Linked DNA regions of Homo sapiens. The protein of the gene in region 3 interacts with the protein of the main gene of each other region in a biochemical or structural test. Each region holds a gene or a part of one and is shown on either strand. Other genes may lie near its edges. The genes, in order: TJP1, SNTG1, PBK, APBA1, RGS3, PDZK1 and PTPN3.

Evidence for each region.
Region 1: the proteins of PBK (region 3) and TJP1 interact in a test that uses a peptide from one of them, tested with the Homo sapiens proteins (one large-scale study listed by IntAct).
Region 2: the proteins of PBK (region 3) and SNTG1 interact in a test that uses a peptide from one of them, tested with the Homo sapiens proteins (one large-scale study listed by IntAct).
Region 4: the proteins of PBK (region 3) and APBA1 interact in a test that uses a peptide from one of them, tested with the Homo sapiens proteins (one large-scale study listed by IntAct).
Region 5: the proteins of PBK (region 3) and RGS3 interact in a test that uses a peptide from one of them, tested with the Homo sapiens proteins (one large-scale study listed by IntAct).
Region 6: the proteins of PBK (region 3) and PDZK1 interact in a test that uses a peptide from one of them, tested with the Homo sapiens proteins (one large-scale study listed by IntAct).
Region 7: the proteins of PBK (region 3) and PTPN3 interact in a test that uses a peptide from one of them, tested with the Homo sapiens proteins (one large-scale study listed by IntAct).

Annotation. Positions count from the first base shown.
Region 1 is NC_000015.10:29,703,969-29,707,468, forward strand, and holds part of TJP1 (tight junction protein 1), read right to left. Parts: intron 1,778-3,500; coding exon 1,560-1,777; intron 338-1,559; coding exon 194-337; intron 1-193. UniProt on the Homo sapiens protein: TJP1, TJP2, and TJP3 are closely related scaffolding proteins that link tight junction (TJ) transmembrane proteins such as claudins, junctional adhesion molecules, and occludin to the actin cytoskeleton.
Region 2 is NC_000008.11:50,656,407-50,659,906, reverse strand, and holds part of SNTG1 (gamma-1-syntrophin), read right to left. Parts: intron 2,999-3,500; coding exon 2,882-2,998; intron 1,316-2,881; coding exon 1,244-1,315; intron 1-1,243. UniProt on the Homo sapiens protein: Adapter protein that binds to and probably organizes the subcellular localization of a variety of proteins. May link various receptors to the actin cytoskeleton and the dystrophin glycoprotein complex.
Region 3 is NC_000008.11:27,831,318-27,834,817, forward strand, and holds part of PBK (lymphokine-activated killer T-cell-originated protein kinase), read right to left. Parts: intron 1,817-3,500; 5' UTR 1,797-1,816; coding exon 1,739-1,796; intron 1-1,738. UniProt on the Homo sapiens protein: Phosphorylates MAP kinase p38. Seems to be active only in mitosis. May also play a role in the activation of lymphoid cells.
Region 4 is NC_000009.12:69,665,872-69,669,371, forward strand, and holds part of APBA1 (amyloid-beta A4 precursor protein-binding family A member 1), read right to left. Parts: intron 1-3,500. UniProt on the Homo sapiens protein: Putative function in synaptic vesicle exocytosis by binding to Munc18-1, an essential component of the synaptic vesicle exocytotic machinery. May modulate processing of the amyloid-beta precursor protein (APP) and hence formation of APP-beta.
Region 5 is NC_000009.12:113,470,227-113,473,726, reverse strand, and holds part of RGS3 (regulator of G-protein signaling 3), read right to left. Parts: intron 1-3,500. UniProt on the Homo sapiens protein: Down-regulates signaling from heterotrimeric G-proteins by increasing the GTPase activity of the alpha subunits, thereby driving them into their inactive GDP-bound form.
Region 6 is NC_000001.11:145,679,869-145,683,368, forward strand, and holds part of PDZK1 (Na(+)/H(+) exchange regulatory cofactor NHE-RF3), read right to left. Parts: intron 2,769-3,500; coding exon 2,632-2,768; intron 1,240-2,631; coding exon 1,044-1,239; intron 1-1,043. UniProt on the Homo sapiens protein: A scaffold protein that connects plasma membrane proteins and regulatory components, regulating their surface expression in epithelial cells apical domains.
Region 7 is NC_000009.12:109,376,308-109,379,807, reverse strand, and holds part of PTPN3 (tyrosine-protein phosphatase non-receptor type 3), read left to right. Parts: intron 1-174; coding exon 175-252; 3' UTR 253-3,500.

The DNA.
Region 1 (3,500 bases), on a different chromosome or scaffold from region 3:
AAGTCTTCTACCTTTCCATATTTATTTACAATATATGCACCACAAATAAATGTGAAAACACTGGTGATGCCTACAAGGCCACAGGAACAGAGATAGAGATTTGCTAACACACAGCATGGGCAGCATCATCAGCCCAGGTATTAATCAACGACAGTCCCCAAAGCTCCCAAAGGACAGAGTGAAGACAGCATACCCGACGAGGAGTCGGATGATTTTAGAGCAAAAGACCAACCGTCAGGAGTCATGGACGCACAGTGTGGTAAGCGCAGCTCCACAGGCTTCAGGAACTTGAGGCCATGGGGACCACACATCACCAAAGGACTCAGCAGTGTTTCACCTGGAGTTGGAAAAGGGGATAGGCAGAGAGGATGGATGTGGTCTTTCTTCTAGAATCCCAGTTTTCCTCACCCTGCTTCTAATTATATGCTTGAAAGCCTAATGGAGTTAGTTCTCTACAGTCGCACTGACCACAAAAAAACGTAACAGCAGCCACATATGGAATCTTAAATTTCCCAGTAGCCACGTTAGAAAGTAAAAAGAAACAAGTGATATCAAATCTTACAATATTTTAATATTTTAACTCAATATAACGAAAACACTGTTATTTCAACATGTAATCAATATATGAAATCTTTGGAACTTGGTGTGTATTTCACATTTCCAGCATCTTTCAATCCCAAATTGTCACACTTCAAGTGCTAGCTAGCCACGTGCAGGCAGTGGCTACTGCATTCAATCATATGGGTCTATAATAAAAAACATATTCAAATGTGCTTGTTGCGAATGTGATATATTTTCCATTTTCAAAATGTTTTGTTTGCTCCATAGGTGGTTAAAGAGATTCATGCAGGGCCAACACAGTCAGTCCTACTGGTTTTTAAAACAGGATATCCCCAAAATCAGAGTACAGAATCAGATGTCAGTATTCCGGCAAAATACAAAAAAGCGAACTAAATTTGTTTAGGAAGTAAAAGCACTGCTAAAAGATGCTAAATCACAACACACTTCGTTATAATATCCTGGTAGATCCAGGAGGATTATGAAAATAAGTTTCCTTAAGAAGCTCAGAAACATGCTGTCATCTCCTCTGAGACTCCTTCATGCACTCTGCTGAGCATGTACTAGTGCTAGGTTCTGGGGTGATGAATAAGACAGTACCTGTCAAGAGGTTTAGGTTCTCCAATCAGGTGAAGGCACAGCAAAGCCTTTCTGAGTGGGTGTTACCTAACCCATCTCCAGAGACGCAAAGGCTGACTGATTCAAAGACAAATTTGGTTAGGTCAGCCTAGGCTGCTCAGCAGGTGAGACATCCCGTGGCCTGTCCTATGCCATCATTTTTTATTTCACACCAAAAGTAAAAGCAGGCAGTGTGGTCACCACAGCCTTGCTTCAGGCCACCCACTGCTTGCTTGCAACACCGTCCCCAGGGCACCCCTCGCTACAGCACTCATCTGGAGATAGAGAGGTGCTGCATTATTAGCCAAGCACTATAAGCTCTGAAGTGCACACAGGGCAACTCTTAAGTTATCAAAACTAAGGAGAAAAATAAACACATTTACCTTTCTCTTTATCTAAAGGTGGAAGGATGCTGTTGTCCCGGCAGACCTTGAAATAGATTTCCTGCTCAACTCCTTCGGGAATGGCTCCTTGAGGGATAATTATACTAACACCAGTTTCTATGGAACTCAGCACGCCCCCATTGCTGTTAAATATGCCTCGGGCTGTGGCCACCACAGTATGACCATCTTCATCTTCATCCTCTTCCACAGCTGAAGGACTGAAAGTTCAGAAATGGCTAGTGAGTGAATTCCTAATAATACACAGGTGCTTTGCTTTTACTACTACTGTATTACGTGCTTTCACTTTTATTTCTCCATATAATCAAGAAGTTACTTTAACAAGATAAGTTTCTGGCAACAGATTTTACTGACAGGGTTATCGCAGAGAATATTATTTCTTTTTTGTTTGTTTGTTTGGTTTTGAGACAGAGTCTCACTCTGTCGCCCAGGCTGGAGTGCAGTGGCACAATCTTGGTTCACTGCAACCTCCATCTCCCAGGTTCAAGTGATTTTTCTGCCTCAGCCTCCCATGTAGCTGGGACTACAGGCGCACGCCACCAAGCCTGGCTAATTTTTGTATTTTTAGTAGAGATGGGGTTTCACCATATTGGCCGGGCTGGTCTCAAACTCCTGATCTCGTCGTGATCCACCTGCCTTGGTCTCCCAAAGTGCTGAGGTTACAGGCGTGAGCCACCGCGCCTGGCGAGAATATTATTTCTAGAGAAATTCCATTCTAGAAAATTTCAAAAATTCTAGAGAAATGTCAAAAATTCAATTTTTGAAGGCAATTAGTCAAACGACCTTCATTAATGAATTGCAACCTGAAAGTGTAAAATCTGATGCCTTGAACACCCAACTACAGGTGAAGCATCCCTAACCTGAAAATCTGAAATGCTCCAAAATCGGAAACTTTTTTTTGAGTGTCAAAATGAAGCTCAAAGGAAATGCTCATTGGAGCATTTTGGCAATATTCCAAAATCCAAAAAAACCCAAGATATGAGACACTTCAGAACCCAAGAAGTTTGGACAAGGGATACTAAACAGGTACAGAGTTTTATGAAGCACATTTTAAAATCCATGAAATTGGAACTTTAAAACTGGTAAGTCACAATTTAATTGGTAGCCCTGTTCTTCCCTTCCTGTTGTTTTTTGAAATGGAGTGTCTTGCTGTCACCCAGGCTAGAGTACAGCGGTGCAATCTTGGCTCACTGCAACCTCCACCTCCCAGGTTCAAGCAATTTTCCTGCCTCAGCTTCTGAGTAGCTAGGATTACAGGCGTCTGCCACCATGCCCGGCTAATTTTTGTATTTTTAGTAGACATGGGTTTTCACCGTGTTGGCCAGGATGGAACTCCTGACTTCCAGTGATCCGCCCGCCTCAACCTCCGAAAGTGCTGGGATTAGAGGCATGAGCCACCGTGCCTGGCTGTTCTTCCATTTTTAGTGACACAAAACAATGGTGCATCTCACGGCTGACAGCATCTCAGACTTGATAAAATCTCCCTAGGATTTTAAGTGTGCCTGAGTATGGTCCTGCCTCAGCATTCCCTGAGGACCAAGCGCCCGCTCTGGCTGTAGGAGGCAAGGCTTCCAAGGTTCCATGAGGCGAAGACCCTTGTATGGGCATATCCCAAACATCCACGAAAGAGAGACAGTAGATTAACTTAGTAATCACAGAACGCCAAAGGCAAAGGGGATGTGGTATCAATGACTGCTTCAAAAGTAGAGGCTATCAACTTCCTGAAAGTACAGTTTTGAGCCAGGGCTCAAAGGTGAGCAGAAAGACCAACGAAACAGAATTACATGAAGGTAGCTGCCGTTTCACTCCAGCATGACCGGAGTGCCAGGGACGACATCCTACGACACAACATCAAGGGAGCAGAGCGCAGCCTGAGCTGCAGAGCAGAGGCCAGCTCTGTCCGCCCCTGACCATCTGTGGATG
Region 2 (3,500 bases), about 23 Mb from region 3:
GATCACACCACTGCACTCCAGCCTAAGCAACAGAGCAAGACTCCATCTCCAAAAAAAAGAAAGCTATCTCATTAGCCATTTTGGCAATTATTTCAGAAAACTGGAGTCGTGTATGATCTCCTTTTCCTCAGATACTAGCCTCTGTTTAAGAAATTGTCAGACCCTTCTTTACTAACAATACACTCAAGTATTTCAGGTTGTCCTTCCACCATTACGCCTACAGAAGAACTCAAAGCATGCACAGTGATGAGCAATCAATGAACTATACTTTTGGCTGGATTTTGCACTTCAGAGAACTTCAGCTTTAATCCAAAGTTCTCTATAAGGAACAGAAACTATAAACAATTTTGAGGTAATTATAATTTTTGTCTCTCTGCCTTCAGACACTTTTGATGCATTTTATTATATTTTAAATGTTTCAGCATTTTTCTACTCTGCTAAGTCTTTAACGGGAAGAGAAATAGCTAACATAAAGCAAAGGGAAATTAGCTCCCCTTGGATACAGAAACAAGGTCAACCTTATGCAGGAATTTAATTATCAATCTGTGGTGAGTCCAAGCCTACAAACCCTAAAGTAGAAAGTGAATATATATTAGTCTTCATGTTTTATAGGTTATTCCAATTTTAATTCTTTAAAAAACGCTATAGAAACCATGTGACATTTTATAGAATTTGTGATGGCTTGATATTGTAATAATCCTGCATATGGCATGAAATTCAACTGATATATGACAATCGAATGTTCTTTTACATATGCAAAAAGATGGTCAAGCCATGAGATTAAGAACAAAACAGCAAAACTTTTCTTTGCATTTTTCCTGATATTTTCTATATTTTCTAATTCCAGGTCTCACCCAAATCTTTCTCTTTTGCATTTTATTCAGAAAAAAAGAATTAAAAAAAAAAACATGGTAACAACCAACGTTTAAATTCAGACTACTTTCAACTGAATTTTCTTCTTCCCCAGTGAACTCCTGAGGAGCTTCTCCCTGTTCCCTCACCCACGGTGGGACTGCAGAGTCTGCTTGCAAGTTATTTAAGCAGATAGCTGAGTGCCAGTGCACTTCTGTGCATTCTATATTTTCTCTTTTTTGTCCAGTTTATTTTCTTTCTCTTTCATTTGTCTTTATCGTGTCTCTTCTTTCATTCCATGAATGATTTGTTTTCATGAGCTGCTTATGAGCCCAGAGGCACTATTTGCTGAGGAAAAGCCATTCAAATACTGACTACATATTGATCATACCTTGAGGATCTTGCACATAATCTCATAAACTGAGAATGTTTTCTCTGCTCTCGTCCAGTCCCAGGTGGTCACCTTTAAAAGATAAGAAAATAATGTTTAATTTGTTTTAGAAAGTTATTTACCACTGTATTTGATTTGCATAATATAGTGAAAAATAAGAAAAAACTTTCACAGATGTATCTAGTCTCTCATCTGTGAAGCCATGCTCATAAAGGACCCTACATAATGCTTTTGTTTCCTCTTTTCCAAGCTTTGTTACCATTTGTCTTATGCTTTCAGCAAATGATTTATATTATGTGCAACAGTTCTCATTTGCCCAGTGTCCTTATATATCTTAAATAATATACGCATTCTCTACCTATAAATACTAAGTATTTACATTCCACACTCATATTTTTTTTTTAATTTACCACTAGTTAAATACAGAGAATACCAGACCTCAACACAGCTATATTTTTTAAATATACATCATTTATATTAAGAAATTCCAAGATGACTGTGACATTGCAAACATACCCAAAGCATAATGCAGTTATTTCACTTACTTAGGTTGGAAACTATATTTAACTGTCTTGTCAAATAAATTATTCAGAGTAGGAATAGAGTAAAATATATAAATATCAATTTTTCCTCTGTCTTCCTAGTGCTTTAAACTTTGTGTAGAGACAGACATTTAAAACAGCAGCAAGTTAGACCTGATGATTTCTAAATCTTATGTATTATTAGACCTGCAAGTGACTGGTCTGGCATTTGGTATTTATATTCAATAAATATTTATTAAGTGTCTTCTGAGCTGCAAGGTACATGTTTCCAAAAGCAAGACTTGAGGTGCAATAGGTATCTATACATATCTAGTACAAATCTCAATAACTAGGATATAGAATATAATAGAAGATGAAAATGTTATTGATTTTATATAGAGAGACCTGTACAACATAAATAAGCAAGTTCGACTTGTCATAAATGATAGCTTACCAGAATGTATTTGTGTTGTTTGCCAAGGATAGAATCCTCTAATTTAAATGTTGAACACCATGAGAGTTAACATCATCCTATGGGATTACCATAGGGTGAGATAGACTTAATAGTAGCTAGATAAGATGCTATCATTTTGAAATTTCCTTATTATTCTTTGCTAATAATAAATTACTAGTAATTAAAAGTGCTGAATAAATTTAAAAGAACTTTCAAAAGATCCTTGGAAAATAAGAGTTTAGTAAACATGTTCATTCATGTATAGCCCTAAAACAGTTTATTCTTTTTTATTTCACTTTTGATATATTCATTTCTTTAATTTTTATTCCATAAACAAAATACACTGACATATGCTTGAAAATGTTTCTTAAAATCTCCTTTCCCATGTCGTCATGAGATTTGTAATGGCATTATAATTTGATCCATTATTTTATAGGTTCACTATTTATAAAGAAGTAAGTTCCAGACTTTTCAAGGGTGTTAAAGCAAATGTTTAATGTCAGAATATATATTTTAGTAAGTTAAATCAGATAAACTGATTTCTACTTTTTCTCTATATTATTTTTTAAAAATATTGATGGTATACTATTTGGTGCTGTTAAGTTGGTGTCAATCTCTTGTGATAATATGGAAACGACCAATACATTTCAATAAAACACGTACTGGAGGTGCCAGAAACTTGTAGAGACATGAGCCCCTCAGGGCCAGGAAGGTCGGGGAGTACACTCTGTCCTGGAGGGGGTCTTGCTCCCGGGCTTCACACCAGCCCATGTAGACAATCTGCAAGAAAATGGAATACAATCAACTGTCAAAACTTCTTATTTTAGATATCTTATATCTAAAAATATTTAGATGCAAATATTAAAAATATTTTAGGTATTTTTCATGTAGTATTAAAAACTCACATAAAATTATCAAATTGATTGATGCAAAAAAGTACATTAAACCAGATTTGGCTTCAGTAAATGAATGTAAACCTCTCATAAGAATTTCTTATACGTTTCTACCAGCATTTATCAAGTGTTTATGCCATCCAACCTGCCATGGATTATATTTCCCACTCTATCAATTCTTACAGAAAAAAATACTTATTTATAATAGAATTCATTGATGCATCGCACTTGTTTACCAATTACTGACATTTTATTAATTGGGAATGTGCTTTAATACAGAATGTTGAAGTGAGTAAAGAAAGCAAATCAGATAGACATCTTATGGCAATACCACTAGGGCGGCACACCACTTCTCCTCTGTGCCTGATAGGGGAGAATGATAAATGCCC
Region 3 (3,500 bases):
ACTCCATTACGGGTGACAAAAGGAAACTCAAAAAAACAAGAAAAAGAAAAGAAATAACCATCCTAAATGTGTATGTACCTAATAACAAAGCTTCAAAATACATGAAGCAACAACTGATAGAAATTGGGGGTGGGGGGAAGCAGACAAATCCACATTGTAGTTGGAAACTTCAACTCTCTTCTCTCATAATTAATATAAAAAGTATACAGAATATCATTGACATTTGTAGAACATTGACATTTGTAGAACACCGTACCCAGTAAGAGTAGAAAAAAATGCCCTTTTCAAGTGCATGCAACATTCACCAACATACATAAACCTCAAGTCAGACTGATTAAGGAAAAAAATTAAGAAAATATACAATACTAGTACCAGATATGAAAAAGGACACTAGAAGGTTAATAAGGGTGTATCAAGAATAACTTCACACCAGTACATTTGAAAATTTAGAAGTGATGGACAAATTCCTTAAAAAACACTAACAAAATTCACAAAGAAAATAAGAGATCACTTGAATAGCCCTATATCTATTAACTGTGAAATCACAGTTAAACTCTTCCTACTAAGAAAACTCCAGGCCCAGATAGCTTTACTAGTGAATTCCACCAATTTAAGGAGGAATAATACCAATTCTACACAAAGTTAAAGAAAAAGATATTTCTATTAAAAAAAGAGAAACATTTCTCATCTTTATGAATACAGAATAACCTAATATTAAAACTAGACAGATATCCCAAAAAGACAACTGCAGTCCAATATCCCTCATGAATATAGACAATATCAGCAAATCAAGCAATATATAAAATATATCATGACCAAACTGGCTTTACACAAGGAAGTTCAGTTTAACACTTGAAAATTAACATAATTTACCACATTGAGAGATTTTAAAAGAAAATTTAATAGATTCAGAAAAAGCTCTCTACAAAGTTCAATACCCACTCACGATAATAACTAGAAATAGAAGAAAAATTCCTCAAACTAATAAAGGGTATTTGTGAAAAACCTACATCTAACATAATACATTGGGAACAAGGCAAGTATATCCACTAACATTTCTATTCAAAAACATACTGGAGCCAGTGCAATTAAAAAAAGTAAAAGAAACAAAGCCATACAGACTGGGGAACAAAGTAAAACTGTCTTTCTTCATCCACAAATGACCAACCATATACAACATCCCAAGCAATCTATTAAAAAGCTAATAGAATAAGTGAGTTTAGGACGGTTGCAGGATACAAGGTCAATATGAAAAATCTGTCACTAGAAATGGACAACAGAATATTTTCTCATGTTATTTTCTAGAAATTTAATTGTAGCTATTTTTTATATAATAGGAGTTAAGGGTCAAGGCTTATTTTTTGCACGTGGATATCTAGGTGTTTGTTGAAAAGATTTTCCTTTGTCCATTGAGTTGCCTTGGAAAATATCTTTCCCTCACAAGAGCAATGTATGGATGAGAGGGAGAAAGGTAAAGCAGTTCCTTAATGGGTCAAGCTAAGTTGATTCTTGGGCAGGGAGAGCCTCCAAACCTGTTAGATTGTCAATAAAATTAGTCCAGAGATGATCAAACCGTGGCCTATAAAATAAGTCTTATTTGTTAAGATTAACATCATAAAGGGGAGTTACATTAAAGTTTCTAAGTGACCGATAATAAAGGATCAAACTAAATAATACTAGGACATTTCTAAGAGAAACAACAATAGTAAAAAAAAAAATCTTACATCTGCTATCTTACCAGATTTCTTTTTTTCTGATAATTTGCTTGGTGTCTTGAAATTACTGATCCCTTCCATTGTGAAAGCCACTCTCAGTCCTACGATGAAAACAAATTGCAAGTTACACAGCAGATATAAAGAATACAACTCTCATTCATGAAGAAAAATGCCAATAGCCAGGCGCAGTGGATCATGCCTGTAATCCCAGCACTTTGGGAGGCTGAGGTGGGTGGATCACCTGAGGTCGGTGGATCACCTGAGGTCGGGAGTTCGAGACCAGCCCGACCAATATGGAGAAACCCCGTCTCTACTAAAAATACAAAATCAGCCAGGCGTGGTGGCGCATGCGTGTAATCCCAGCTGCTTGGGAGGCTGAGGCAGGAGAATCGCTTGAACCTGGGAGGCAGAGGTTGCGGTGAGCCGAGATCGTGCCATTGCACTCCAGCCTGGGCAACAAGAGCAAAACTCCGTCTCAAAAAAAAAAAAAAGCCTATAACATTATCGTTCACGTTATCACAAACAAAATTTGAGAGCTAAAAAGGACCTCAACAAACATTTAGCCCAATTTTACTTAAAATGAGGAAACTAAAACCAAAAAGTACAATTACTTACCCCCATCATAATATTAGTGATTGGGTATTTTTGTTTTCATTATAAAGTAATATATGCACTTAGCTAAAAAAAAAATCACCTAGTACAAAAAAGTAAACAGTATGTCTCCCTGTTATACTTCCCAGGAGCAGTTGTTAACAGCTCTCTTATATCCTTTAAGGAAACTGTTCAAGCAGCATTATTCATAACAGCCAAAAGGCAGAAACAACAGAACTCTGCATCAGATGATGAATGGATAAACAAAATGTGGCATATCTATACAATGGAATATTATTCAGTCATAAAAAGGAATAAAGTGCTGATATATACAAGAATGAACCTTGAAAACATTATACTAAATGAAAGAAGCCAGACACATAAAGGCTACATATATGATGATCCTTTTTTTTTTTTTTTTTTAGATGGAGTCTCACTCTGTCGCCCAGGCTGGAGTGCAGTGGCATGATCTCGACTCACTGCAACCTCTGCCTCCCAGGTTCAAGCAATTCTCCTGCCTTAGCCTCCTGAGTAGCTGGGACTACCAGCGCCCACCACCACACCTGGCTAATTTTTATATTTTTGGTAGAGACGGTGTTTCACCATATTGGCCAGGCTGGTCACGAACTCCCGACCTTGTGATAATGCCCGCCTGGGCCTCCCAAAGTGCTGGGATTACAGGCATAAGCCACCGTGCCCGTCCAATGATCCCATTTTTAGGAAATGTCCAGAATAGGCAAATCATGGAGACAAAAATAGCTGAATAGTTACTAAGGACTGGGAGACAAAGAATGCAGAATGACTGCCAGTGGGTATGGGATTTCTTTCTGGGGTGAAGAAAAGGTTCTAAAACCAGATAATGGTTTAATATATTCATCTCTGAGTATACTAGAAACTATTGAATTTTACACTTTCAAAAGGTGGATTTTTATGATACATTAATTATCTCAATAAATGGTTATAAAAATTGTCTATGAAAATAAAATGAGGCCGGGTATGGTGGCTCACGCCTGTAATCTCAGCACTTTGGGAGGCCAAGGCAGGCGGATCAGTTGACATCAGGAGTTCAAGACCAGCCTGGCCAACATGGCGAAACCTCGTCTCTACTAAAAATACAAAAAAATTAGCCAGGTGTGGTGGCGTGTACCTGTCATTCCAGCTACTCAGGAGGCTGAGGCAGAAGAATCGCTTGAA
Region 4 (3,500 bases), on a different chromosome or scaffold from region 3:
ACTACAAGCATGCGCCACCATGCCCGGCTAATTCTTGTATTTTTAGTAGAGACAGCATTTCGCCATGTTGGCCAGGCTGCTCTCGAACTCCTGACCTCAAGTGATCTGCCTGCCTCAGCCTCCCAAAGTGCTGGGATTACAGGCATGATTGTTTTCTAACTTAAATACATTTGATTGAGGATATTCATCTTTATATAAACCCAGTACTGATTCATAGGTCAGCCCAAATACAGTAGATGGTAATACAGCCTTATGGGCAAACAATTGAAAATGAAAGGCAAAGCATTTTATTGTGAATTCCCTAAGTGACTGCTCCAGGTAAACCAAGGAAACCAATAAGGTTTCCCTGCTGTCCCTTGAGGATGCCAAACATGTTCTTATCCAGCCTTTTCATTTTTGATATCCTCTCTGCCTAGAAGACCCTTCCCCCAAATATCTGCAGGGCTCACTACTTCACATCTTTCAGCTCTTTCTGCTTAAGGTCTTCCCTGACCATACTATATAAACTAATGTCACCCCCCACCCACCCACTATCATCAGTCCATTGCTCTCTCTCTTTTATTCTTCGTCATAGCACTTACCACCTGGCATATTATGTAATTACTTATTTATTTATTTTTAATCTCCTTCCACTAAAAGTTCTGTGATATTAAGGACATGCCTCCCCCCACCCCATATTCCTTGCACCTAGAATAGTTTCTGGCCCAGAGAAAGTGTTCAATGAGTGTATGTTGAAGGAATGAATAAATTTCATCATTAAAACCTCAAAATCACCACTCATTACAGTTGAAGTTCCATAAACTCACCTGGAATCATGACATAATCCCATAACTCAAGGATCTAAAGGGTTCACAATCATTTTGTGAAAAATGTGGGGTTTTTAAAAATAAAGCTTCAATGTATATATCAGGTATGAATAAATAGTTTTAATGCTATCATAAACTTGCACAGGCCATAAAAGGCAACTCATTCGATGTCCATTGTGTAAGAATGAAATCCTGAAATTTAAAATTTTAGATACTGTTGCTAGCTTACTTAAAAAAAGTTTATTCATGTATTCATGTGACAAATGTATATTGAATGCATATGATGGGTATGGTATTGGGCGAGGTGCTATATTTGATTTTTCTTTTGAAAACTGACTTTACATGTACGTCACTGTAAAACCATATTCTACCATTACAGATAGAAAAAGCTCATCCTTTAAAAAAACACTTACATTTTTCCCCATTGTTTTACTATAAACTTCTTAAAATTTAGCTCAGATCTCTGAGAGAGAATATTTACAGGAAATACAAGTGGAGTCTTTTATTTGGATAATTTTAAAGGTAAACATTCTCCTCTTTTTACTGCATTTAAGGGAATGAAGAACCACTGTATTTAGTGAGATTAAATGCTCACTATACAAAAATTACTTAAGTAGTTGTCAAACTCCAATTATATAGCGTTAATTGGTTTCACTACAAATTCCTGCTTTTCAAACACATGAGGTCCTCATGGTTGGGTAATGATCTTTTATTCACTCCTAATTGACTCACTGCTCTGTTTCCACAATGCCCACAAGTCTTTGTCATTCTACTCCTGGCTTCAACCTGCCCACCTCTCTTTGACCTCACTTAAAAGACTGTGGCCAAATTCCTTTCTTTCCACCTCAAAATTCCTATGCTTCTGTCTCAAAAGAATCCTTCCTTTGCTTTCATCTAGTATCCTCCCATCTTCTTGAAGACTTAATTCCCTCAATTGAGCCTCTCCCTTACATTTTCAATCTCTTTTTCCCTCAATGGATTGTTCTCCTCAGCTTATAAAGCAGGCTCAAGTCTTCCTATACTAAAAATACCACTTTCCCTCTACTACACCATTGTTGTGATATATCATACTCTCTCTCCTTCTCTTTTATCTCCCAACTTATTGAAAATGAAGTCTGTTTTCACTGCTTTCCATTTCCCTTCCCCCACGCCTCCCTTCAACCCTTGCCCCTGGCTGCCACTTCCACCTACCACAAAGACAATCAAGGAAATCCAAGAGTCAAATCCAATGGCTTTGCCTTGGTTGCACCGTCACCCATGGGGTGTGCTGTGTGAGTGACAGGGGCTCTCCTCACCCCTTCCAGCTTCCATGACACTGTACCACTTCACTTCCATCATTTTTCTCCAATTGCCCCTTGTTTAACGTGGTTCCTGTCCTCTTCTTTCTCTTTCCCCTCCAACATACAGACATCCCTCAAGGATCCTATCCTTACTTTTGCTTCTTCTTTCTTCATTTTCTTTATCAGTGATTCCTGGGATATGAAAATCGCTCCTAAGCAGATGACCTACAAATCTCCTGGTAGCTCTAACCTCCCTCTGTATTCTAGTCCCTTAACTTGGACAAGCCTGTCATGCTCAAAAAGAAACTTCTCTCCTCTTCCTTATCCTCTGTTATATCTTCTTTCTGAAAATGACCCAACTGCTCTCTCAGCTAAGCCTGACAATGATCTTTTGGCCTCCCTTTTCCCTTCCTCACTTTCCAGTGACTGTTCAAGCTCCTCAGATAATTCCCGCACACCACCTCTTAGGTGTGTTCCCTTCTTGCCTCCCACTGCCTCTTTCCATCTTTCCCCTACTTTGACAATAGAGTCTATCTGGTCTCCCTCCTGCCAGCCTTTTCCCATGTCATTCCATCCAACATAATACTACAAAAGTATTGCCCCAAAGCACAGTTCTGATACTGTCAATCTTTCTCCTCACAAATCTTCTATAGTTCCCCAGTCCTTACTGAACAAAATCCACACTCCTTAGCTTGGCGTACAAGTTGCTCCACCACCTTGAACAAACCTCTCTTTCTTGCTTTATCCCTCATTACATCTCTTGGCATTCCTAGCGCTTCAGCCAAAGCACACCATTTTTTTGTTTCCTGTGTAGGCATACACCTTCCACTGCCAGGCCTGTGCTACACTGTTCCTCCCCCAAGCATGCCCTTCCTTCTCTGCCAACCCAAATGCCACCTTAATCACAGCTCAAATGCTATATCCCATGTAACCTTCCCTAATTCTTCCATCAGAAGTCACTTTGTACCCTGTGAACTCCCACAGCTCTGCAGGAATACTGCTTTTTCAGCACTTAATCATTTTTCACTATTTTTACAGTTAGTAACATATTTCCTCTTTTCTCCTTCTAGATCATGATCCACCTCTGGCCAGGATCTAAGACTTAGCATTCTTTGAACCTCCAACCCTTCTCAACATTCCCTGTCCCCTATCCAAAGGTACAGTGGATCTGAGATGCGGGAGGCAATTAACAAATGTTTGCAAATTAATTATTGTAACCCAGAGAGTTAACTTCAGATTTTACGGCTTGAAATTCTCTCAATTTTAGCAACAATTACTTCTTCTTTCTAGGATAAAAGTCCTATCTCCCCAAGGTACTACAGTTAATTCCTTTTGGCCCCAGAGGTCAATTTTCAAATATCTCTTACCCCTAAGTCTTCCGAAACAAACAAACACAATAACAACAAAACAAAAC
Region 5 (3,500 bases), on a different chromosome or scaffold from region 3:
CAGGCAAGGAAGCTGAAGATTATTAAGAGGTAAACAGGTTGGCTGGGCATGGTGGCTCACACCTGTAATCCCAACACTTTGGGAGGCTGAGGCAGGATGATCACTTGAGGCCAGGAGTTTGAGACCAGTCTAGGCAACATAGCAAGACTCTGTCTCTCCAAAAACGTTTTTTTAAAATTAGCCGGACGTGGTGGTGTGTACCTGTAGTCCCAGCTACTCAGGAGGCTGAGGTGGGAGGATCACTGGAGCCCAGGAGGTTGAGGCTGTAGTGAGCCATGATCACACCACTGCACTCCAGCCTGGGCAACAGAGTGAGACCCCAACTCAAAAAAAAGAAAATAGCTAAAACAGGTTGTCCAAATCACACAGCCAGTAAGTGGCAGAGCTGGGGTTTGCATTTAGGCAGTCCAGGGCCCCCACTGTTAGCCTCTCTATACCTATCATGGGTTTAAAATTTGTCCACAAAGTCTTTGATACTCTTCCTTTCAAGAGGTGAAGCCTAGTTCCTCCCTTCAGACATGGGCTGGACTTAGTGACTTGCTTCTAACAAATAGAATGTGGTAGAAATGACAGTGGATGACTTTCAACATTAGGATATTAAAGGTATTATTAGTTCCTTCTTTTTTTAACAGCTGTATTGGGATATAATTAACATATCATACATTTCATCAGTTTTGTTTATTATTGAGATGGAGTCTCACTCTGTCGCCCAGGCTGGAGTGCAATGACATGATCTCAGCTCACTGTAACCTCTGCCTCCCAGGTTCAAATTATTCTCCTGTCTCAGCCTCCTGAGTAGCTGGGATTACAGGCATGCACCACCCACACCTGGCCAATTTTTTGTATTTTTTGTAGAGACAGAGTTTCACCATGTTGGCCAGGCTGCTCTCGAACTCCTGACCTTAGATGATCCACCCGCCTCAGCCTCCCAAAGTGCTGGGATTGAGCCACCGTGCACGGCCACACTTCACCAATTTAAAGCATGTAATTTTCTTTTAGTATATTCACAGGATTCTGTAATCAATCACCTCTATCTAATTTTAGAACATTTTCATCCTCCCCTAAAAGAAATCCCATACTCTTTCGCAGTCACACCCTATTCCCTTCTCCCCTCAGCCCTTGTCAACCACTAATCTGCTTTCTGTCTCTAAGGACTTGCCTATTCTGGATACTTATGTAAACAGAATCACACAACGCATGGTCTTTTGTGATTGACTTCTTTCACTTAGCATAATGTTTTCAAGGTTCACCCATATTGTAGCACGTATCAGTATTTTAGTCCCTTTGTGGCCAAATAATATTCCATTGTATGGATATACCACATTTTGTTTATCCACTCATCTGGTGATGGATATTTCAGGTTATTTCGACTTTTTGGCTACTATGAATAATGCCGTTATGAACATGTGTGTGTGTACACATGTTTGTGTGAGCATGTGTTTTCATTCCTCTTGGATTTATACCTAAGAGTGGAATTGCTGGGTCAAATGGAAACTCTACATTTAATTGTTTGAGGAACCGCCAAACTTTTCCAAAGTGGTTGCACCATTTGACATTCCGGCCGGCAGTGTACAAGGGTTCCAATTTCCCCTCAACTTCTTCAACGCCTGTTATTGGCTCTTTTTTTATTATAGTCATTCTAGTATGATAGTATCTCATTGTGGTTTTGATTTGCATTTCCCTGATAACTAATGACATTGAGCATTTTTTCACATGCTGTTAGCCATTTTTCTTTGGAAAAAAATGTCTATTCAAATCCTTTACCCATTTTTGAGCTGGGTTACTCATCTTTTTATGGGAGTTCTTTCTTGCTTTCATTTTTGTATCACTTGCCTAGAAGGAAGCCAGCTGCCACATAATAAGGAAGCTCAAGCAATCCTACGAAGAGGTCCATGCGATGAGAAACAGAAGCCTCCTAATTACAGGTAGCAAGGAACTGAGGCCTCCTGCTGAGAGCCATGTGAATGAGCCATCTTGGAAAGGGACCCTCCAGCCCCAGTAATGCCTGCTCGGACAACTGCAGGTAGGCAGGCAGGCAGGGAGAAAGAAAGGAGGGACGGAGAGAGAGAGCGGGGAGGGGAGGAAGGGACGGAAGAGGCAGGGAGGGAGGAGAAAAGGAGGGAGAGAGGCAGAAAGGGAGGGAAAAAAAAACAAAAACCAACTCAAAAAAGCTTAGAAAATATATGTAGGGGACTTCCATTTCTGGGATGACAGATCCACTGAGGAAAACTAGAAATGCTAAACAAAATATGTTAAAGCATCTTCTTAGATAAACAACAAGAGAGAGAGGAGCTACCAGGCAGGATCTAGGGGAATGGAGGACTGTAGAAGGAAACCTAGTGTTTTTCTGGGCTAATTTCCTCCTGGGGTGTTTTCAAATTCCAGAGGGCTGATTGAGAGATCAAGAGACTGAGTGAGTTTCTGCCTGCTTCTCAGGGCTAGAGGAATAGGAACTAGGGACCAGGGCCCACCAAGAAGCAGGGTTCTTCTGAGCCCCACCTTTTGCATAGGGACCCTGAAGGGTTGCTCCATAGGAATAGAGTGAACTGTAATCAGACACAGCTACTCCAGGGACTACAGCTCGATTTCAAGTACTCTCAGTCCCAACACTGAATTAAGACTAACCCAGTGACCCTAGGCACCTGACAAACGAACAAAGATTTTTTGAAGGAAAATATCATCCTAGGTCTGCATTGAGAAGAAAATAATAATAATAACAACAACTCTCTGCCTATACTGTTTGTTTGTTGTTTGTTTGTTTTGAGTCAGGGTCTCACTCTGACACCCAGGCTAGGGTACAGTATCACAATCACAGCTCACTGTAGTCTTGACCTCCTAGGCTCAAGTGATCCTCCTTCCTCAGCCTCCCAAGTAGCTAGGACCACAGGTGCACACCATCATGCCCAGCTAATTTTTTTATTTTTTGTAGAGATGAGCTCTCACTATGTTGCCCACACTGGTCTCGAACTTCTGGGCTTGAGTGATCCTCCTGCCTTGGCCTCCCAAAGTGCTGGGATTATAAGCATGGGCCACTCACCACTCCCAGCCATGTGCCTGTTCTTTGCAGCAGACACAGCACACCTACAATGTAGATCCAAAAAGGTTGAAAGAAAAAGGATGGAAAAAGATATGTCAGGCAAATATTAAATGAAAGAAGCATGGTTAGCTATGTTAATATCAGGAAAATTAGACTTTATACCTACTAGAAATAAAGAAGACTTCATAACAATAATAGATTTCATAATAAAAATTTCAGCTCACCAGAAAGATAATAATTCTAAATCTGTATGTTGTTAACATAGCTTCAACATATGTAAAGGAAAAACTGACAGAACTGCAATGGGAAATAGACAAATTTACAATCACAGTGGGAATTCTAATACACCTCTCTTAGGAACTGACAGAGAAAACAGGAAAAATCAACAAGGATACGGAATATTTGAACAATATAAAGAGCAAACTTGACCTAAACTTGACATACACAAAGAACACTGCACCCA
Region 6 (3,500 bases), on a different chromosome or scaffold from region 3:
CCAACCTACCTTTCCAACGAATTCTTGTACTACACATCATGTGCCAATTAAACTGTGCCAGTGTCTCCTGACTGTGTTCACATGATTCCCACCTTCCTGGAATGATCTTCCTTATCCCAGCTCTGTCTACTTTCCCAAATCTATTCATGTTACAAAGCCTGAACTCAAGTGCCACCCCTACTATGAGGGCTTCTGGTACCTTTTTAGTGAGAAAAGCTTACTCTAACGTTGAATTATCACAGTGCTTGATCTGCCCCTGTATGAAGGTACTTAACCTCTATCTCCCTTCATTATGGACATATCTCTTATCTACTAAATGGTAGACTCCTTCACTAAAGAATTCCTGTCTGCTTCATATGATATTCTTTCTCCAAGGCACTGAGGATGTTTTTACAAAACACAAACCAAATTAATATTTGATAAATTAATGTAAACAGAGAGTGAAAAGAAAATAACAACTTATGGGCGAATAGCAGTTTATACGGCCCGAACTCATGTTCTTTTATGTATTTACCTTCCCTGAAAGAACCTAGTGTTCTTCCTATTGAGTTGCAAGGAAGGAGGACTCCTGGTTCTGAGTCCCAAATCCTCACCCACACCTCGGCCTCAGGTCCAGCGGTGTGCTATACTGGCTCACACCGGCTCACAAAAGCCAATTCTGTGCAACACTTCATTGTGTTCAGTGACATCGTGTTAGTAAGTTGAAACTGGACATGGGAGGAGTATTTACATCACAAAATACTACCAATTTGGTACCAAAAACAAACGCTACCAATTTGGATTTCCCCCCACCCCCGCCCCAGAGAGCTAACTTACCAGGATACCGTTGCCCAGATCCCAAATTCTGCCTTATCATAATGCTATGGAAACTTTTGATGCCCAACATCAGACCCTCATGTGACATAGACGCTGACCCAGCTGTGCCTTCTATGCTATGCCGCTCATGCATCTGGCTGGGAGTTGGGAACCTAATGGAACTCTGGAGTCAGAATGGGATGAGGAATTTGCTGGTTACTGCCAAGTTTCCTGCTCTTGTACCTTACCTTTCTGTTCTGAGCCTGCCCTCAGATAGAAACCATAGCCATTGCTTCCTTTCTTCATCTCCACAATTCGGGGCTGGTGGGGTAACAGTTTCAAACTGGCTGTTTCTCTTTTGAATTGTATCTTCTGCTCAACATGACGCTTGTCAGTTTCTTTGTCCACCAGCAGGAACATGACACGGCTTCCTGACTTCTTCACCTGTAACAACACACACAGATGAGGAATGACATCAACCCCCAAGAACAATGCTGGGGAATAAGAAAGTTTCTGTATAAAGGCACACAGTCTCTAGGTTCAACAAAAGATAGGGGATGAAAGGCCTGAGTTTAAGCTGTTACACTATGCCCTACCAGCTAACTGATATGTATTTATCGCCTTTTTTTTTTTTTTTGAGATGGAGTGTCACTCTTTCGCCCAGGCTGGAGTGCAGTGGCACTATCTCAGCTCACTGCAAGCTCTGCCTCCCGGGTTCACGCCATTCTCCTGCCTCAGCCTCCCGAGTACCTGGGACTACAGGTGCCCGCCACCGCACCTGGCTAAATTTTTTTTTTTTTATTTTTAGTGGAGACGGTGTTTCACCTTGTTAGCCAGGATGGTCTCGATCTCCTGACCTCGTGATCCACCCGCCTCGGCCTCCCAAAGTGCTGGGATTACAGGCGTGAGCCACCGCGCCCGGCCCCTATCTCCACTTCTATAGTTGTTTTCCCTTATTTAAGTATGACCTACCCACATAGGTGCTAACTGAGCCCAAGTAGGAGCTGGAATTCAGAAAACCCATAAAGGTACCTAGATAAAAGCTAGAAAGGGAGTTTGGAAAAGAAAAGAAAGTAAGGGTCCACGTCAAAAAATCATTCTACAAAGAGAAGGTTGGTCAATTTTTAAGGTTCCATATGACCTCAAAGGAAAATCTCGGTTATCTCCCACTTCCTATTAAAGCATTTCAGTATTAACGGCTCAACAGTGAACTTATTGTAAATTCAGAGGGCGCAGTGGCACACGCCCATAATCCCAGCACTTTGGGAGGCCAAGGCGGGCAGATCACTTGAGCTCAGGAGTTCAAGACCAGCCTGGCCAACATAGTGAGACCCTATCTCTACAAAACACACACACACACACACACACACACACACACACACACACACATAAAAATTAGCCAGGTGCGGTGGTGCACACCTGTAGTCCCAGCTACTCAGGAAGCTGAGGTAGAAGAATCATCTGAGCCCAGGAGGCCGAGACTGCAATGAGCCGAGATTGTGCCACTACACTCCAGCCTGGGTAACAGAGTGAGACCCTGTCTCAATCAAACAGTTCAGAGGGGGCTCCCAATCAGATACAAACAAGATCCAAAAGGTAAAGTTAATAATTTTGTAGACCTCATGTGAAACTAGGGAAGGCTTTATTCCAAAACCCTATATTAACACTGCTTATACCACTAGTGTGAGTCTGTTCACCCTTAATATGAAGGGGCAACTCAACTGGATATTTTTTCCATCATAAACTCATGCTGTCCCCTACCACCCCTGTCTTCCTGTCACCTCCAATGAGAATAGAGTGGAAGATAGGGTAAGAAAAGTACCCTTTGGGGCATACCTTTTCAACCACTTCCTCATGGCTGGCATCCTCTACATTCTCTCCATTCACTTCAATCAAGTGATCATCAGCCAGAACTCCAGCTCTCATAGCCACACCTTGAGGTGTAATATCAGTCATGTACACCCCCTTTTTACCTGGAAGAGAGTAGGGGTAAACTCCATGTGGAGACACAAGTGACTCCCTCTTGGATGGTAATCTGTGATGTTGACTTCTGATTAGCCCCAGTCCTGTGATTGCCTCCCGATTTCTACTTCATTTACTGTCCCTAGTCTAAGAACATGTCAACCTTAATGTTATCACGCAAATTATAGGCTATGATGCACTATAGCATTCTTGGCTATTGCGGAGGGCTGCCTTCGATTGTCTTGCTGGAGCACATATACCCTTTCCCTATGGTATATCAGCCTTGGGTCTGGGGAGTAACACAGAGATCTACATGTTTTGTGGCTGTCCAAGACCATGCTTCTGTTCGTAAGTTCCCCTGATAAATTCCAATGTACCAACAAACTGGATTTGCCTGCCTTGTCCTTTGGTTTCTCAGCTCCTTTGGCCTTTGAGGGACTGCTTTGCATACACCACCCTTTCACAGAACACTCCATTGCAAAGAAAAACTCGAAATCCAATGGTAAAGACTTTTCTCCCAATAATGTGAAACAAACTTCCGATTTTAGAGCTAACTCGGCCTTTGGCTTCTGATCTAAAATCACAGTTATAGGTCCTGGCACTGAACTTGACACAGCCTTTACTCAGTGGGTATTTGTTGATTTGAATAGAATTTCTGAGGTCAGCTAAATGCAAAGATGGAATCTTGGGTGGCCTTGGCCCCTTGAACCAGAAAGCGCTAAAACATGCCCACACTGCATTAT
Region 7 (3,500 bases), on a different chromosome or scaffold from region 3:
TGCCCCCTCCCCGCATCATATAGGAACTAGGGCTTCACAGGTGTACCTGGCCTGTGGCCCAGAGTTGGCGCTCAGGGAATATTTACAAATGCTGCAAAAGACCCACCGGTACAGGGTGTGGTAGGCAGCATTTCCTGGAGCTACAGGACTTGACAGCATTTTTTTCTTTTCCAGAGCCAGTACAAGTTTGTGTGTGAAGCGATTCTTCGTGTGTATGAAGAAGGTTTAGTCCAAATGCTGGATCCTAGTTAAGACAACTGTGAAAAAGTTCATTCCTCTTTCCCAAGGGCATCCTCCTTGAAAGAGGAGGACAGACCTCTCTGGAAGCAGCAAGAGGAACCAGTAGCTGTGGGAAAGGAATGGGCACCTCTGAACCCAGGCACTTTAAACTTCTATAGAAAAGATATCGTGTACATAGGAACTGGTGTAGATAAGCATGCAATTATGGCATCATTTAGGCCTGTATTTCTATGGAAAGATACAAAAAGGATCTCAGTTTGGGGCCTGTCCTAATGCCTTCTTCCCTAACATCACCACACACACCCCTGTCGGCATCCTGGAGCAATTGAGACCGGACACCCACAGAGCTGTTGTCCTCCCAGCAACAAGATGGTGTGGTTATCTTGGGTCATTTGGATGTTTTGTTTGTTTCTGTGTGTCAGACTGTAAGGGCTGAGCTTTCTGTGCTTCTAGGTGGAGCTGGAACAATTCAGATTCACCCGCCCTGATGCTAAGGAAACCCTGACGTATGTACTAGATGGCAGGGCACTGGGGGTCAGGCTGAAGGCTGAGCAACACCTCTCTGCCCTCCCTCCCTTTGTCCCATCTCCCAGCGACTTCCAATATTCATGTTTCTGAGAATTGTGTCCCTCTTCAGGTTCCCTCTTGGTGCCTAACCTGGATTAGTAATGTGCATTCAGGTGAATTTTCAGCTGAGGCTCTGAGAACTGGTACTCTCAGTGTGTTCTGGTCATCTTGTGGCTTAGTTGTAGAAGCAGGTGTGTCTCTTGCCTCTGCTTGCCTCCTACTGCACACTCAGCACCCAGGACTGGAATCACCGACTACTGAATCTCCTACATGTATTGCTGCTACTTCAAGCTCCTCCACTTGAAACCTTATGATTTTCCCAAGGGGAGATGGGACAGTGTCATCTAAATATTCCGAATGTTTGGCCTTCTGAGAAAAGAGCTTCTAGTAATTGAACCATGGGAAACCCAGCTTCTGGAGGGTTGGCCGTGGGGCTGTGTACATGTGTGTGCCCAGGGGTGAGTGTTTCTCAGGATTCCTAACGATTCAAATTACCGTTGAGTATATATAAAGAATGAGTCTCTGTATGGAAGAACAAATGTGTGCATTCACCCCCAGTCACAATGGTCTCCATTGCATTTCAAAGGAGAGGATCAGACTATCTGAATATAAACACAATCTGATGTTAATTTATTCTAAGAACACCATCATTTTGATTGTCCTAAAGAATTCTGCCTTTGTGAATACCGTGTTAAATTTTTTTAAATTTGTGACAGGATTGTAGCAAATTATTATTTAAGGAAAATAAATTGTGTAAACATTTAATGTGGTATTTTTGAACAGCGGTTTTTATGTACTCAGAAGAGGAAGTAAAGCCAGGTTCTTAATGGTATTTATAGAAAAGATGTTTTCATATTATAATGCACATAAATGAAGCCATTTTGATATTCAGCAAATTCGGTGCCAATTGAATAGTTTGCTGGTAGCAAGACGGATGAAGACCTATATGGGAGATTCTTTATCTCTAGAGCTAGCATATTTACTTGCATACTTTGTTTCTTTTCCACATGGATATTTTACTGCTAAATGGCAGAGGTGGGAGGGAGATGTCACACAGTACCATAACCCCATATTGAAAACAAGAAACCACCAGAAAGTTTGCAGCTAAGGGGCAGGGGATTCAGTTCCTACGCCCACTCAGCACTAACTACTTGCGGGCCTGGTTGCTTAGAAGCTCTACCTCTCTTTCATTATCTGTAAAATAGAAACAATACTTAGGACTTTAGTTGGAACATGAGGATTGAATAAGATCACGCTATTCATGTGACTTTTTATCGGCTAGAACAGCAACAGACACTGCTGTGGGTGAGTTACTTAGAAAAGTTTAGTTATCAGTGATTAGCCCAAAAACACATCAGTCAAAAATAGAATCCACTGGATTTTTGTCTCTCTTTTTAGAGACAGGGTCTCACTGTCGCCCAGGCTGGAGTACAGTGGCATGATCATTGTTCACTGCAGCCTCAAATTCCTGGGCTCAAGCAATCCTCGCACCTCAGCCTCCTGAGTAGCCGGGACTATAGGCACATGCCACCTCACCTGGCTTGTGTGTGTGTGTGTGTGTGTGTGTGTGTGTGTGTGTGTGTGTGTGTGTGTGTGTGTGTGTGTAGAGACAGGATCTTGATGTGTTGCCTAGGCTGGTCTCAAACTCCTGGCCTCAAGTGATCTTCCCACCTCAGCCTCCAAAACTGTTGGGATTATAGGCGTGAGCCACTGTGCCCAGCCTAACTGGGTTTTTATGAGAGGAAAATAGAAAATGCTCTTCTAGAAGAGAGAGAACAAGAGCACAAAATAATCTGGACTCACAAAAATTCAGCAAGCTCCAAGAAAGGGGGATGGAGGGAACGCTGGCAAAAATTTAAATGCCATTAGGATATTTAGCAAGTTATTACTGTTTGGTAAAAATGCATCATCACCCTGTGTGCAAAATGCTTGCAAAGTAGTCTAAATGTCTTTGGAGATGGGTGTTTTACTGCTTTTTTCCAAAAACAAATTGTTTATTATGGTTGCAGAAATGCAGCCATTACGGTCACATAAATTTCTAAAAAGCCTACCAAAGGTTGCAAGCAGTCTTCTGCCACTGGGCAGGCCAGCAGTTCAGACCCAGCGAGGTTGCCAGGAACAAATCCAGGAAATACTGGGAAGAACAAGACAAGAGAATTACCTAAAAGAGCAAACAATTCAAGTAAATCCTGTAGCTATTACCACTTAAAATCCGTAGCTCAAGATTCCTGTTTCACCACCTTATACACTTAAGCAATTATACTTAAGCCTTTTTTTAGTCCTAAGTGAAGAACTACATCAGAATCAGGATAAGTATTTTGCCTGGGAAATTTGGCTGCATATGAATGGAGAAGACATTTACATCCTATGTTCTGGCACTTTCTGAAAGATCTAATTAAACATGTTGATGTGCCAATTTAATCAAGATGAGAGATCCCTGCTGGTGTCACCCTCTAGAACCTGCACTTGGTGTTTTGACTTTCCAGAAGAAAAAAATGCAACTTTGGTTAGGGGGCAGTGGTTGGATCACACAGTTGTCTTTCGTTTCCTACCACAGTAATTCATATTTAAATATGCTTTTAGATTAGTGTGGATACTATTGCTGCTGTGTTGCTACCTGACCTTTTTCTGGGGGGGGTACCTCAGAAATGAGCATTTGAGGGCAAGCGAAAAAGCCCTCTTCATCCTCCAGA